Regions from separate parts of the Homo sapiens genome. Here region 1 is linked to region 2. A link means that fine-mapping ties the variant in region 2 to the expression of a gene that starts in the linked region. Tissue or cell type: whole blood. Region 2 holds a variant in brackets; the other region holds the start of a gene. All regions are shown on one strand. Distances are between the middles of the regions.

Region 1 (8,178 bases), 27 kb after region 2:
GTTTTAAAAAATCCCAATGGCCAAGCTGCACCCTATTCCAATTAGATCAGAATCTCTGGGGATGAGACCCAGGCATTGATTCCAATGGATAGCCAAATTTGAGAACCACTGCTGAAACAAATGCATCCTATTCAAATAACTCAGAAACAAGCCCATAGTCATGGTGATAGCCAGATAACAGCGAATACAGGTATCAGAAGTCGAAAAAGGGAAGAACTAGAGGCTATACTAGAACTGCTGCTACAAGTTATGTAGAGACAGACAGCCAGCAAGACAGCAGCAGAGTATCAAGCCTTGAACATAATCATCCGGTAACCCACAAGAGCCCCATCAACAAACCTGTAGAAGTGTAATAACATAACACATATTTCTATAACCATTTTAACTTGCCACAGTCTTTTCATGTCTATTGTCCTATTTTATTCTCACGACAACCCCAGTGGGCAAGTAAAACAGGTATTCTGAAGCTCATTTATCAGATAGAGAAACAGAACTAAGAAGTTAAATAATCTGCCTAGGGCTCACAGGAGGACTGTGACAGAGCTGGACCGAGAATCCCAGTCTTTCAACTGTCCTTTATCTCTGCTACGAAAACACAATGCTCTGTACTCTGTCCAAAAATGAGCTCGGCACTATGATCTAGGTTAAGGGGCCAGTTTGTGCAGATAGCTAATGTAGAAATTTCTCTTGCCCTCCTGAACAGGGAAAAGAAATCGTTCTCTTTTCTGAGATTCGCTTATCTACAACTAATGAGAAAAGCCACGTAAAAAAGTAAGTTCTTAGTTTAAGAGAATTCCAGAGAAAGTATCAAAGGATGCCAGAGTCATGCCCAAAAGTAAACTGGTCGTAAAAGATTTAGAAAGCCCTGGAAACAGAAAAGAAAGCATCATCTTACACTTGTACAAAATCACAGTGCAGCCACACCAGGAATACTGCATTCACTTCTTGTCGCCATACCTCAAGGAAGACAATGCAGCTAGAAAAGGTCCAGAGAAGGACAAATAAAATGACCAACAGCTCAGAGTGGCTTTCACATGAAAATAAAATTTTATATCAGACTCTTCAAATTGAAATAACAAGATGGGGATGCTGGGATAAGGTTTGGGATCAATTTAAGAGTACTCTCAACCAGGACCGGTGGCTCACACCTATAATCCCTGACCTTTGGGAGGCCAAGGCAGGAGGATTGTTTGAGACCAAGAGTTTGAGACCAGCCTGGGCAACATAGCAAGACCCCATCTCTACAAAAAACGTTTTAAAAATTAGCCAGGTGCAGTGGCACATGCCTGTAGTCTCAGCTACTCAGGAGGCTGAGGCAGGAGGAGCCCTTAAGCCCAGGAGTTTGAGGCTGCAGTGAGCTATGATTGTGCCACTGCACTCTGGTCTTCTTATAATCTTCTTACAAAGTGGTTAAGCAGGAGTTAAGTTATTATTAAACCCTAAGAAGTAGTACTATTGGGCCAATCAGGAATTAACGACATTTCAGGAAAAAAAAATGAATTATTTGCTATAATTAAATAGAGAGCATTTTCCTAAATACCTGATTTATTTATTATCAAGGTCAGAATAATCTCAAAAATAAAGATCCTTGATATCCACAGAAGATAGAATACCAGGGGGATAGACAGTAAAATTAAATCAGTATGCCACTGCTGAACTTTTTAGGCCTTTCTGGGTCACCAACACAGGAGGGAGAAAGATTCTTACCACCCGGTTCCACAAGGCACCCTGTTTACTTTGCATATCTGGGGTAAGGCGGATATACTGGGTCATCACCATGGCATTGCCCATCAGATTCCACAGTGAGGAACTGCCTGTGCCCACACCTACAGGAAGGAAGTAGATCAGTTCATACTTTTCAACACCAATCCATTCAGAAAGCAGCCACCACAGAGCCTCTGAAAGCTGAGCCATCATCTTTTTCCCCCTTTAATGTCACTCAATCTCCTATCTTCTCTCAGTCATGAATCTTACCATCTCTACAGCTTTCACAAGGCCTTTATCAGGTAAGGACCCCAAAGCACATCAGAACTCTCACTTTATGCATGTTACAGTAACCATAGCTCACATCCATTCTTCCCGTTTTATATGTGAGTAAACTTCAGCATCGTAAAAGAAAAAAATTTTCCTGAGTTATATCAAAAAGAGTTTGACAGGCCAGGTGCAGTGGCTCACCCATGTAATCCCCACACTTTGAGATGATGTGGAGGGAGGGCATCTTGAGGTCAGCAATTTGAGACCAGCCTGGGCAACATAGAAAGACCCTGTCTTTACCAAAAAAAAAATTAGCCAGGTGTGGTAGTCCTTGTCCATAGTCCTAGCTACTCAGGAGGCTGAGTTGGGAGCATCGCTTGAGCCCAGGAGATTGAAACTGCATGAGCCATGATTGTGCCACTGCACTCCAGCCTAGGCAACGGAACAAGACCTTGTCTCTAAAAATATATAAATATAAATAAAAAGAGTTTGACCCTCAGGCCTCCGGGGCTTAGTCACATTCTTCCTTTTTTTTTTTTCTTTGAGATGGAGTCTCGCTCTGTTGCCCAGGCTGAAGTGCAGTGGCATGACCTCGGCTCACTGTAAGCTCTGCCTCCCGGGTTCACGCCATTCTCCTGCCTCAGCCTCCTGAGTAGCTGGGACTACAGGCGCCCGCCACCACACCTGGCTAATTTTTTTGTATTTTCAGCAGAGATGGGGTTTCACCGTGTTAGCTAGGATGGTCTCAATCTCCTGACCTCGTGATCCGCCCACCTCGGCCTCCCAAAGTGCGGAGATTACAGGCGTGAGCCACCGCCCCAGCCGTCACATTCTTTCTTTAAACAATCCTTAAAGTGTGAAGCTACTCCCTGTACCCTCACCTATAAACTTCTTTAAGAATGAAAACTTTGTGTCTGCAAACCCATAAGCATTAGCAAAGAGACAGCACAGAGGCACTCCAGGCATGTAAGTGAATAAATGATTACCCTTAGTAGTAGAGTATACTCTTGCACTTTGAATTGTTTTCTGTCCCACTACCTACGCCTTAGTGGGGAAAGACTTGTGTTAGTTAAGCCATCTGCACTGGTTTGTCATCGTTTTGTGGCTAACTGCATTAATTTTCTGGCTGATAAGCTGTGCTTAGAGTTCTGTGAACCCTAACCTCTTTCACCAACAGGGCCCCTAGGCTGGAGAAGAGAAGGTGGTTCTACCCAGCAACATAAATTTATCATCTTCTCATTTCGTTCAAGTTCTACCCCAGTTCTTCCTCCTGCTTTATTTCTAGCACATCCACAGGTCCATCTGGAGACTGGCTCATTGCTAGTAGCCCTCAATCACTCCTCACCATTCTCAATTCTCTCCCCTTCCCAAACTCCTCCTGTCTAACTCCAGGCCTAGTACTAGTGGCACCCGACAGCCCTGCCTTTACCTACTGGAAACTTCCAGAGCTTGGCAGGCACACCTAACTCCTGCCTTTCAGACCTGTGGCTCCCAAACGCGGAGGGAGTCTCCGTGGGCCCCACCACCGCCAGCAGTTTCCTCCGGGCCACGAAGCCCTTCGCCGCCCCCGCCTCTACCCCTGAAATCAAGTCCCGAAGCCCGCCCCACTGCACGACCACCTCACCCTGGGCGCCTCACCCTGGTAGGGCTTCGACAGCGAGTGCTCCCGTTTCAAGTACTCGAACGTTTGACCCGCCCCGACTTGCTGTGGCCCCTGCCCAGACCCCAACAAAAGAAGAAGGAGTAACATCCTGGACCCATCCCGAGCCGACAAACATCGCCGCCACTGCTGCCACGACCCAAGGGGTCCCAGAGTCGCCGCCATCTTTCCCACCAACGACCCTTCATCAAAAGCCCGCCCCGTCGCCCAACCCATTGGCCCGAAGAGCCATCTGCCCTGCGTCCTATTGGCTTTCGTCAAGCCCCCGCCCCTGCAGGTGACTATATCACCGATTGGCTGGCTTCTGTATCAGTTGCCTTGCCAACCCAGAAAAGGGGCGTAGCCGAATGCCCAGCCCCCCCCCTTATTTGCATTTGCCCTGAGTTCCACTAGGCTTGCTGGGATACGTAGTTTATTTGTATTTTGTTTTCTGCGTACGAGAGTAAATTTAAAGAGATAAAACGTTTCTTCTGGTCCCAAACATTCTATCCTCTCTGCAATAGTACGCTCCTGACTGCAGCTCTCTGAATCAATTTGGAAGATATAGCAGTGAAAGGAGAAATAGACAAATCCGTAAAATAGCTGGAAAACTATCAATTTATAAAAGACTTGAACAGCACTACCAACTAACTTGACCTGATGATATTTATAGAAACTCCACCTAACAACTGCGGAAGACACATTCTCTTCAAATGCAAATGACTCCTTTGCCGTGATAGTCTGGGCCATCAAGCAACCTACAGATATAAAAGAACTGAAAGCACACAAATTAATTAATTCTAAAAGCCATCACCTCCTTTCCTCCCTTCCTCTTTTTTTTCTTTTTGGTTTGAGACGAGGTCTTGGCCAGGCGCGGTGGCTCACGCCTGTAATCCCAGCACTTTGGGAGGCCGAGGCAGGCGGATCACCTGAGGTTGGGAGTTCGAGACCAGCCTGACCAAGGTGGAGAAACCCCGTCTCTATTAAAAATAAAAAAAAAAATTAGCCAGGCGTGGTGGCACGTGCCTGTAATCCCAGCTACTGGGAGGCTGAGGCAGGAGAATCGCTTGAACCTGGGAGGCAGAGGTTGCAGTGAGCCGAGACCAAGCCATTGCACTCCAGCCTGGGCCACATAGAGCAAAACTCCATCTCAAAAAAAAAAAAAAAAAGAGAGACAAGGTCTTGCTCTGTTGCCCAGGCTGGAGTGCAGTGGCACAATCTCAGCTCCAGCCTCTCCCTCCCTGGCTGAAGTGATCCTGCCACCTTAGCCTCCTGAGTTACTGGGACTACAGGCACATCCCTTCGTCTTTATCCGGCACCACAACATGTGTCCAGACTGGTCTCCACGTAGCCACTAAAGTGATCCAAACTATCTAACCATGGTAAGTGTCAGGGTTAAATGAGTCAATATTGGTAAACCTCTTAGAACAGTGCCTTGCGTGTAGTAAGCACTATTTCTTTCTTTTTTCTTTTCTTTTTTTTTTTGTTTTTGTTTTTGTTTTTGTTTTTGAGACAGGGTCTCTCTCTGTCACCCAGGCTGGAGTGCAGTGGCATGACCACAGCCTCAACCTCCTGGACTCAAGGGATCTTCCCACTTCAGCCTCTCAAGTAGCTGGGACTACAGGTGTGTGCCACCTCACCTTGCTAATTTTTATTTTTTGTAGCTATGGGGTTGTGGGGGAGGTCTCACTAAGTTGCCCAGATTTGTCTCATACTTCTAGACTTCAGTGATCCTCTCTCCTCAGCCTCCCAAAGTGCTGGGATTAGAGGTGTAAGCCACCGCACCAAGCCATAAGCGCTATTTCATCATCATCATTCTTATTAACCGGGCCTTTGATGGCTCACCATCACCTGTGGGGAGGAGATTCAAGCCCCTCAATTTGGCACACAAAGCCCCCTGCCATCTGGCCCTGGCCTTATTGCCCATGACTCTTTTCCTCCATCTTTATGCTCCAGCTTCCCTTCCCTCTTTTTTTTTTCTGCAGTCCACTTCCTTCTGGAGGTCCTTCTCAAACCTCTCAGGCAGGGTAGATTCTCCTGTCTGAGCTCTCAAAGTGTTCCATGCACATCTCATATAGAGCAATTGACAGATCTGTGTTTATGTCTTCCCAATAGACTTAACCAAAGTTAACACTCTCTTGCTTTCCTGAGCATGAATATATTTAATAAGATAAACATAATTATGAGCCTACTTTACAGGGGATCAACTTTTTAAAATTAAAGCTGTCACAGCTATTTTTTTTAAAGAGATGGGGTCTTGGCTGGGCACGGTGGCTCAGGCCTGTAATCCCAGCACTTTGGGAGGCAGGCGGATCACCTGAGGTCAGGAGTTCAAGACCATCCTGGCCAACATGGTGAAACCCCATCTCTACTAAAAATACAAAAAATTAGCCAGCCGTGGTGGCACACGCCTGTAGTCCCAGCTACTCAGGAGGCTGAGGCAGGAGAATCACTTGAACCCAGAAGGCGGAGGTTGCAGTGAGCCGAGACCGCACCACAGCACTCCAGCCTGGGCAACACAGTGAGACTTCGTCTCGAAAAATATATATATACATATATATACAAAAATTAAATGGGCGTGGTGGCAGGTGCCTGTAATCCCAGATACTTGGAAGGCTGAGGCAGGAGAATCACTTGAACCCAGGAGGTAGAGGTTGCAGTGAGTCAAGAAGATCCCACCACCATACTCCAGCCTGAGCAGCAGATCCGTCTCAAAAAAACAAAAAAAAGAAGAAATGGGGTCTCAATCCATCAGGCTGGGGTGCAGTACTGTGATCATAGCTCACTACAGTCTCAAACTGCTGGGTGAGCCTCAGCTAATTTTTAAAATTTTTTCTAAAGATGGGGGTCTCTATGTTGCCCAGGCTGGTTTTGAACTTCTGGCCTTAAGCGATCCTCCCACCTCATCTCTCAAAGTGCTGAGATTACAGGTGTGAGCCATGGTGCCCAGCCTGTCACTGCCATCAGTCTTTGACACCCTACAATGTCAAATGTCTGGTGCTAAGACTTTAGGAATTGCAATGAATCTGTTCGTGTCATACACTGGCTTTAAAACCATTCATAACTCCCAATTACCAAAATCCAAAGTCCTTAGTGTAGCATTCAAAGCCCTTTGCATCCTGACTGAAATCAGGCGCTACGCATGTGTACTGTAATGTGTGTCACCTGGAATTATGGAGCTCAATTAACAGATTATGGGTTTGTCTCCGCAGCAAGGCTGGGAGCTCCAGGACCACAGGAAGCAGGTCTTACTCATTTCCTAACTCAGGCCCCACCCATTTCCCCAACCCCAACCTATCACCCAGCACATAGTAGGGGTTCTAATTGTTTTGAATAAATTATTTCCATTGCATTTCTCTGCAAGATGAATTTTTAATTGTAGTAAAATGCACATAAAGGCCGGGCGCGGTGGCTCACACCTGTAATCCCAGCACTTTGGGAGGCCGAGGTGGGTGGCTCATCTGAGGTCGGGAGTTCGAGACCAGCCTGACCAACATGAAGAAACCCCGTCTCTACTAAAAATACAAAATTAGCCGGGTGTGGTGGCGCATGCCTGTAATCCCAGCTAGTTGGGAGGCTGAGGCAGGAGAATCGCTTGAACCTGGGAAGTGGAGGTTGCGGTGAGCCAAGATCGCGCCACTGCACTCCAGCCTAGGCAACAAGAGTGAAACTCTGTCTCAAAAAAAAAAAAGAAAAAAAATACATAAAATACAGCGTATAATTTTTAAGTACAGATGGTCCTCAACTTACAATGGGGTTACCTACAGAAAAACTAAACCCATCCTAAAGTCTAAAAATCCTAAGTCAAACCATCATTAAGTCAGGACCATGTGTGTTCAGTTCAAAGGCATTAAATTCATTCGCAGTGTCATGCACCCTGTCAGCTGAATTTCTGATAGATTGACACAAGCAGAAATCTCATTGTAAAATTCTGTGTGATGAGGAAAAGGGGAATAAAGGAGAAGGGTGTGAAAGGTGAGATGCACTGGACTATAAATCAAATCATTTTGTTCAGACTGTTGCAATAGGAAGAATGCTTATTAATGAGGAATGTATCAAAGAAAAGGAAGAGCCAGGCCCGGTGGCTCATACCTGTAATCCCAGTACTTTGGGAGGCTGAGGCGGGTGGATCATGAGGTCAGGAGTTCGAGACCAGCCTGGCCAATATAGTGAAACCCCATCTCAACTAGAAATACAAAAATTAGCCAAGCGTGGTAGTGCACACCTGTAGTCCCAGCCACTCGGGAGGTTGAGGCAGGAGAATCGCTTGAACCCAGGAGGAAGAGGTTGCAGTGAGCCAAGATCATGCCACTGCACTCGAGCCTGAGCAACAGAGTGAGACTCCATCTCAAAAGAAAAAAAAAAGGAAAGGAAGGACAGGCGGGGCTCGGTGGCTCACACCTGCAATCCCAGCACTTTGGGAGGCCGAGGTGGGGGTGGAGGGCGGAATCATTTGAGGTCAGGAGTTCGAGACCAGCCTGGCCAACATGGTGAAACCCTGTCTCTACTAAAAATACAAAAATTAGCCAGGCATGGTGCCTGTAATCCCAGCTACTTGGAAGGCT
Region 2 (8,178 bases):
TTTAGAGACCACAAATCTGAGTGCTAGGGGTGCTCATTGCTACTAGGTTGGTTACTGACTGGGGCCTGGATTTCTGGTCATTTATAAGGAGAGCATCCACAGCTGCTTGGACTGCTAGAATCTTTAGCAGATTCCCAGGTAGTGAAAAACTGGATTCATCTTCTGTTGGAAAAATGTTAACTGTCAGAGCTCAGTTTAAACCATGGGACAGGATAAAAGGCCAGGGCAATGCTCCTCATGCAATGCAGGGCATTAAAGCCTGGAACGGCTGGGAAACATCCTAACTTTCTCAGCAGTTTTCAACAACCTACTATACAACAAGTAAGAGGATGGCAACAAGAAAGACCTCAAAAGAAAGAAACAACTTGCATTTAGGGATACCCTATGGGCAGAGAACACAGACTTACTAACTTGGGTATTCTCACTAAAGACCTAGGGCAAAAAACTTAGACTAAACAAAAAATTATTCTCCCCTGCCATTTCTGACAGTTGGGGACTTTCCATTAAAAAGTACGTCAGGAGGTTAACCCAGAAACCTGTAAGCTCAAAGGAAAATGTGTAGTCATATAATGAGATTATATAGCAAAGATCTCCAGCCTATGCCTCCTATCCCCCTGCCGAGACTAAATTTTTCCCACAGGTCTGGCCTGCTCGGTACTTAGAACCTAATTGCCAAAACTAATCTCTCTGCATGACAGAAAGCAGATCAATGGTTGCCTGGAATCCAAGAAGGGGAGGAATACTGCAAAGGGGGATAATAAGGCTTTTGGCAGGTGATGGAAACATTCATATCTTAATTGTGATGGTGACTACATAGGTGTAAATATTTGTCAAAACTCTTCAAACTGTATTCTTCTGTTGTATGGAAAGCACACCTCAGTAAAGTTGATTTTAAAAAAATCAGATGCCAGAGTTTTAAAGATCAGCAGATTGCATTTTAAAAATCCAGATTATCCAGGCTGGGCTCAGTGGCTCATGCCTGTAATCCCAGCACTTTCGGAGGCCAAGGCGGGCGGATCACAAGGTCGAGATGGAGACCATCCTGGCCAACATGGTGAAACCCCGTTTCTACTAAAAATACAAAAATTAGCTGGGCGTGGTGGCGCGCCTGTAGTCCCAGCTACTTGGGAGGCTGAGGCAGGAGAATCGCTTGAATACAGGAGGTGGAGGTTGCAGTGAGCTGACATGGCGCCACTGCACCCCAGCCTGGCGACAGAGCGAGACTCCATATATATATATAAAAAAAAATCCAGAATTCCAACTGCTCTTGAAAAACTGGAAGATTTAGCCTCACTGAGCTGACATTTCCTTTTAGCTACAATGGCTGGAGCTCACTAGCTGTCGGCTTTTTCAGATGGGTATCTGCCTTTCTATTTTGCCACAAGAAACTTCTATTCCAAACTAGCTTTATCCAGAACAAATTATATTAATCAAAAGAAACAGAAGTTCAGTTCCTTTTCTCTTCCCAAAAGATGTTATGATTGGGGTTCAAGCAAAGAGAGTAAGTGTATAAACGAGAAGCTACGAATCAGGCATAAGTAGAAAAAGAAACAAGAGGAGATGGAAAAGTAAAAGAACCAGGTGCTGTTAATGTCACATAAGTCAAGAAGGCAAGAGTTTCAGGGTAATGGGTTAAATGAGCTGAGGAGGACAAAGGGTGAGAACGAGAATAGAGTACTGAATATGGCAAGGAAACAGAATGACCTTTCATGAGAATGGTGTTAGTGTACTAGCAAGATAGAGCACAGGTCTGAGTCAGCATGTTAAGGAGGTGGACAGCTAGGAAACAAAAGGATCTGTACACACAACACATTCAAAAGTCTCAGCAAAAGGAGAGTCTGGGGTCAGAAGAGGGACGGCAAAGTCAAGGAAAAGCTTTGTTAAGGAAGGGGAACGGGGAACATTAGTGGTTGGAAGGAGAGGAGCCTGACAGCAGAAATCAGAAAGCAAGGAACTCACGATACAGGCTAGAAGAGCCAGCTTAATGAAGGGACAAACACTGCTTTCTATTAGCACCAACCATCTTCTAGTGACAACTGTACTAGGAAAGCCTGGCGTGGGTTTTTAAGGAATGTGGATATAAGAATGCAGAAGGAGAAGCAGTCTTGAGGCACCTCCTTCCAGAGCACCGCTCCTCTGGCTCTCCCCTGTGAGAGGCCTCAATGAAGTGTGGGTATTGAGAAGAGGCCTCAGTCAGGGCAAACCAAGAGTGCGCGTGGCAGTACCTGAGAGATCCCCAGTGATGGAGGAGGTGCCGAAGTAGTAGCCGCGGGGCAGGCGGACTCCGGGCACTTCAATGCAGTCCCTCCACTCATGCTTGCCATCAATATCCATCATTATCTAGAATAAAAAGAGAGATAAATCAGGGTCAGGCCATGGGAGCAAGAGCGACACAGCCCACACCACCATCTGGTCCAGGACAAGGACTCTCACCGTCAAATGCCTCTTGACGTAGCGAATCACCAGGAAGGTGTCGTAATGAAGATTGCGGACAATGGCTGTGCAGCCTCCCAGCTCTGTAGGCCGCCCATCCCGCTCATGATCATAGCTGAGGGAGCCGTTGTTCACCATGGCTGAGATGTAGGGGAATACCCGCTGGAAAGCAGAGAGGGGGAAGCAGACACTAAGGAAGAGCACATAGGAACGCCTGTACAAACAGCAACAGGAATTCAGCACATACAAGTTGAGCCCCTTACAGCAGAATAGGCAGCCACTCGACCTCATTGTCAGCAGCCCCTGAGAGCCCACATTCAGATGGTCTCTCAAGGGAAATGGGCCCAGGAAGCGACTACACTTGGTATTTGCCTTCAGTAATTCTCTTGGCTCCTGAACTGGGGTGGGCCTGAAGTGGTCCTCCTAAGACGCTGGAGTCTGACTTGAATGCCCCAAGGTCACCATTTGGCACTTATGTGCCGCCTAATACCAGGGGTTTCCTTTTCGTGTATATGTACCTATCTCCCCAACTGCCACATAAGCTTCTTGAAGAAAAAATTCATTCATCACGTCTTCATATGTCTAAACTTCAGCCCCATCTCCTCCCAACCATGGTTCTGCACACAGCGGGTATTCTGAAAATACCTGTTTGAGCAGGGGAATCTTTCCATTCAGGATAGCTCTTTTCAATTCTAAAATTCTATAAGCATATAAGGCTAAATGGATTAGAACTCAGAACATGGAACGGGGTTGCTGGATGGGCTCAGCCAGCCACAATGACTGTCCTTAGTCAAAAGACTTTCCAGCCCACTTAAGCCTCCTCCACACGTAACTTCTCCGAATAATAATAAGAGGGCAAGGTTCTCCCTTAACAGGGAGAAAATTGCAAGTTTTCCCATAAGCCACTCATTTTCCCATCTATTTCAGGGGCCCTCTCTCCCCAGTAGAGTTGTAGGAGCAATTCTTCCTTAGAAATGGCGAACTAATCATTCCAGAACAAGCCCAATGCCAAGGCAGTGCAAAAAGGCAGGGTAGTGAGGTGGTGAAGGGGTAACATGAGGCATGCCACTCCTTTGGGGAGTATTTGTCCCTTTGTCCCAAATGGTTAACATGCAAGATGGAGATGCAGTCGAGACCAGAGACCGGGGACTCCTGAGACAACCACATGGACTTGAAACAGCAACAAATGTTGGATGGACACATGGGAATGAGGGATGCTCATGATGAGCCAAGAACTGAGTACCTGGACTCCTGGAGAATATCGCCTCTTCTGGGCCTGAGAGGGTCCAGCAGGTTATGATAAAAACAAGAGAGGGCACAGAAGACAGGAGACCAAGTCAGAAAGACACAGCCACAGAAGAGCTATGACCCAGCTGTGATGGATGAACAAACCAACTTAAATCCCCAAACAGAATTTTAGGGTCCCTGAAGGGCATCCGTGAAGTCTTTGCACCCTCAAGATGATAGGCAAAACCATATGCACGGGTGCTTGTACATTTTTCTGAGGAGAGGGTCTGTTACTATATCAGATTCTCAAAGGGGTCCCCTAGGAAGACCGCTCTAACCCATAGAGGGTCCTGAAGCTTTTGGAAGGCACTTTATAAAACACATAGCAGTACGCTGTCCAGGCACGCCGCACTTATGTCTCTGGGAGTCAGTCTCAAGTTTGTCTGTACCCAGCCTACTGTATTTCTATAGCAAGGGGAAAGAGGAGACAACAGGGCTAAATTCTTCCAAATTCAAGACATCCTTTACTATCCAGGATCTCAGGAAACAGCTCCTGCCCAGAAGACCAAAATCTTGCCACTTGAGAGACTATGAAACTAACTCTAATCCAAAGGGATCACTTACCCTCTAACTGAGCCTTATGGTCATATATTCCCAAATAACTATTGTCATTCTAACCTACCACACATAGGCAAGGAAGAAGCTCCATGGAGGCATTGCAGAATGACAGATTTAGAAAATCATCAGGCGTGAGGGTATTAAGCTCTGCTCCAGCAAACAGCTGCAGTTCTAAGCCATTAGCGACAAGAGGTACCTACACAAGCTCAGCTCAGCTCTGCCCTGTGGGACAGGTAGGCGAGGGTACAGAACTCAAACCCTTCACTCCTTTAATACGGTGAACACCTACTACAAGCCAGGTACTGTTCCAGATGCTGAGGGTCCAAAGAGAAACAAGACAGACAGGAATGGAATTAAGATCAGAGTGGAAGAAACAAACAACAAAGAAGCAAATAAAATTATTTCAGATAGTGAAAAATGCTATAAGGAAAATAAAATAGGTAATACAAGGGATGGGCAAGGGAACCTCTCCCTGAGGAGGCAATATCTGAGCTGAGACTCAAGTAATTAGAGGGAGTCCACCAAAAGATCTGAGGGCACAAGAAGCATGAGGGTGGCACATTCAAGGAACTGGAAACAGATCAGTCAGAATCACAGCTTGTGAGAAGAGGCTGCCATGAGGCAAGGCAGCACCCACGGCACTGGGCTCCATGGGCCACAGCCAGGAGTCCGAGGCTGCAGTGCAGATCCCCTGCCGTCCTCCTCTTAACACCACTGGCAGAATTCATACAGGACACAGAAAGGCATGACATCAATCCGTGGATGATTAAACTGGCATGAAGT[T/G]AATCTTCAACAACTACCATTTAGAACAAGGAAATGGTGAGCATGTTATCAAGCAGTTTACAGAAACTGGCATCTGAGAGTATGCTCATAATTTCAGTGACAATTAAGAAAAAGGGATTAAAAATGCCCTGTGGAGCTCTGATGAGCCCAAGGCTTCCTTCACTCATCACCTCTAGTAACCCTGATTAGAAGTTTAAGTTGCAACTTTAAAGAGATAGCAATCTCCTATGTTAGCTTGCTTAGAAAATAAACAAATAATAAAGAGACAGCAATCCTTAGCCTAAGGGTGCCTTACTCTTCCCAAGGCTGGTGTGGACCCAGTTCCAGGTAACAGCCAGAGGCATGCTGGACCTTGGGAGCACCTGAAGGAGCTTGTTAACTGCACGTATACATGGGTCCCTCAGTCAAAGAGTCTCATTCGTATGGCTAGAGTGGGGTGCAGGATTGTTTTTTGTTTGTTTTTTTGAGATGGAGTCTCACTCTGTCACCCAGGCTGGAGTGCAGTGGCGAAATCTTGGCTCACTGCAACCTCCACCTCCTGGGTTCAAGCAATTCTCCTGCCTCAGCCTTATGAGTAGGTGGGATTACAGGCGCTCGCCACCATGCCCAGCTAATTTTTGTATTTTTAGTAGAGATGGGGTTTCACCATGTTGGTCAGGCTGGTCTCGAACTCCTGATCTCGTGATCTGCCCGTCTTGGCCTCCCAAAGTGCTGGGATTACAGGCGTGAGCCACCGCACCCAGCCAGGATTATGTATTTTTAAAAAGCACCACAGAAGGCTGTGATGTGCAGCCAAATTGAAGAAACGCTGCACCAGACAGGGAGCCTCACAGCTTTGCAACTACAGAGAATCTGTCTACTTCGGCAACACGAGTTGGCCTTCAACTTTTAACCTCACATTAGTGTAAGTCACTAAATGCCATCTTATTTTCTACGCCTAGTCAAGAGTTCCTGGAAGTATTTCTTGGATAACCACTAATTTCACACAGGAGCAATTTTGTTTTTCCCCTAGAAAGCACTCTGTAAGTTAGAACCAAAGATTGAAGAATCACACTGGTTCAGGCAAGGTGGTAGTTTTATTCCTAATTTAAGAGTCACCAGAAAGGAGAAACTCTCACCTGTTTTATCATCCAAAGGACTGTTGTTTAAAGGGTGGAGAAATGTTTTCAACTTTTTGTACTACAAGACTACTTTTAAAAAAGTGTTTTTTGAAGACCTCTACGGGATAACTGTATCTTCAGCATATTTCGATGGAAAAGACACCCATTAGCTTGTGGATTTATGGATTCTAGGCTAAAATTCCAAATGGCCTCTGTAATTAGGGAGACCTGAGTTCTAACTGCAGTTATGTCACTTATAGCTGTGTAACCCTTCGGTGGATTACATCACCTCTTTGAGATTCTATTTCCTCACTGTAAACAGAACAATACAAAGCTCACAGGGTTCATTATGAAGATGAAATGAGATATGCGAAGCATTTAGTACAATGTCTTGGTGTTCAGGAGGGAGTCAATAAACATTCAATCAGTGACTAGTGTATTTCTAGATACAAATATCGTTCACAGGTACTCATATATATATAAACACAAAGCCAAACATACATCTTCTAAAGCACGAATTCCCAGACCACTGGCTGTGATCAACCATTAATATTTCCAAAAATATTTTGGAGAGTATTAGATTTGGCTTCTTTTTATTGCCTACTAAAAATATTAAAATACAATAATGACAGAACAATCATCTATAATAAACATCATTTTACAAAGGGACACTTTAACACCAAAAGATGAGAGAGAACAATGTAATTTCATAATGAAACAACTGAATACATTTAGCACTTAAGAAAAAGAACTTCATTATTATGATTCTTGCACCAGTGAAAACTCTGTTACCACACAACTGGAGTTCATACACTGGCATCTAGGAGCCACTCTTTTAGAGCAGTGTTTCCATCTCAAACCATACCATTGTCTAGTAAGCTGACCATTTGCTTTTGGGAACCCAGATGTGAAGAAGTGAAGGAGGGGAGAGGAAGAGAGAACAGAACTAAGATGTTTGCAAAATGTCCCTTAGGAATCCACTGAATGGTGTGAATAATAGCTGGTGTTTATTGAGCACTTAGTCTGTGCCAGGCACTGAACTCAGTAATGAGCCCTTCTGCATTTAATTCTCACAATCCTATGAGGTAGTATCAGTACTCCTCATTTCACAGGTAAAAAACTTGTCCAGGATAACACAGGCATTAAGTAGTGAAATCAGGATTTGAAACCAAGTATTCTGGCTCCAGAGCCCTGACTCAATCACTGGGATACACTGCTTTCAATATCTCTCAATATGGAAAAATGTTTCATATGTATTATTTTTTTAAAATCAGGTCTAAACAGTATGTACTCTGAAGCACAAAGAGAACGCTGAGAATAGTTCCAGATTAAAGGAGAGTAACAACTGAATACAACACAGGATCTGGGACTTTCTTTCATTATAAAGGACATATTGGGACAATAGGTGAAATATGAATAAGGCCTGCAGATTAGATAATGGTATTGTTACAAATGTTAACTTCCTGATTTTGATCACTGTGCTGTGGCTACATAAAATAACTTTTTTTTTTAAACACACACACACACACAAGTATTTAGGATTAAGGAGACATCATGAGAGCAATTTACTCTTAGTTCAGAAAAAAAGACACACAAGCACAAACATACACGCAAGACACATACACACAGACACACACACACAAAGAAAGAGGTTAAAGAAAAGGATGGCCAGGTGTGGTGGCTCACACCTATAATCCCAGCACTTTGGGAAATGAAGGTGGGAGGATTGCTTGACCCTAGGAGTTTGAGACCAACCTGGGCAACATGGCAAAACCCCATCTCTACAAAAAGATAGCTGGGCTTGGTGGCATGCACCTGTAGTCCCAGCTACTTGGGAGGCTGAGATGGGAGGCTCTATTGAGCCTGAGAAGTTGAGGCTACACTAAGCTGTGATTGTGCCACTGCACTCCACCCTGGGTGACAAAACCAAACCCTGTGTCGGAAAAAAAAAAAAAAAAAAAAGGACGGCCAGGCGCAGTAGCTCACACCTGTAACCCCAGCACTTTGTGAGGCCGAG

The links. PIP is the estimated chance that this variant, and not a neighbour inherited with it, causes the effect.
Region 1: it holds the start of LMAN2L, and the variant in region 2 is fine-mapped to the expression of LMAN2L in whole blood (TOPMed, PIP above 0.99).

The regions. Positions count from the first base shown.
Region 1 is chr2:96,736,242-96,744,419 of GRCh38, forward strand. LMAN2L (lectin, mannose binding 2 like) reads right to left here and starts at 3,823. Exons shown (of 8, transcript NM_030805.4): 1 at 3,613-3,823; 2 at 1,708-1,826. The coding sequence starts at 3,799. RefSeq lists enhancers at 2,199-3,138, 3,139-4,076.
Region 2 is chr2:96,709,431-96,717,608 of GRCh38, forward strand. It overlaps LMAN2L (lectin, mannose binding 2 like), which reads right to left. Exons shown (of 8, transcript NM_030805.4): 5 at 2,434-2,595; 6 at 2,226-2,340. Among named protein-coding and RNA genes, the nearest start is that of LMAN2L, 27 kb to the right of the region's middle. The variant T/G (reference allele first, on the strand shown) is at 5,062.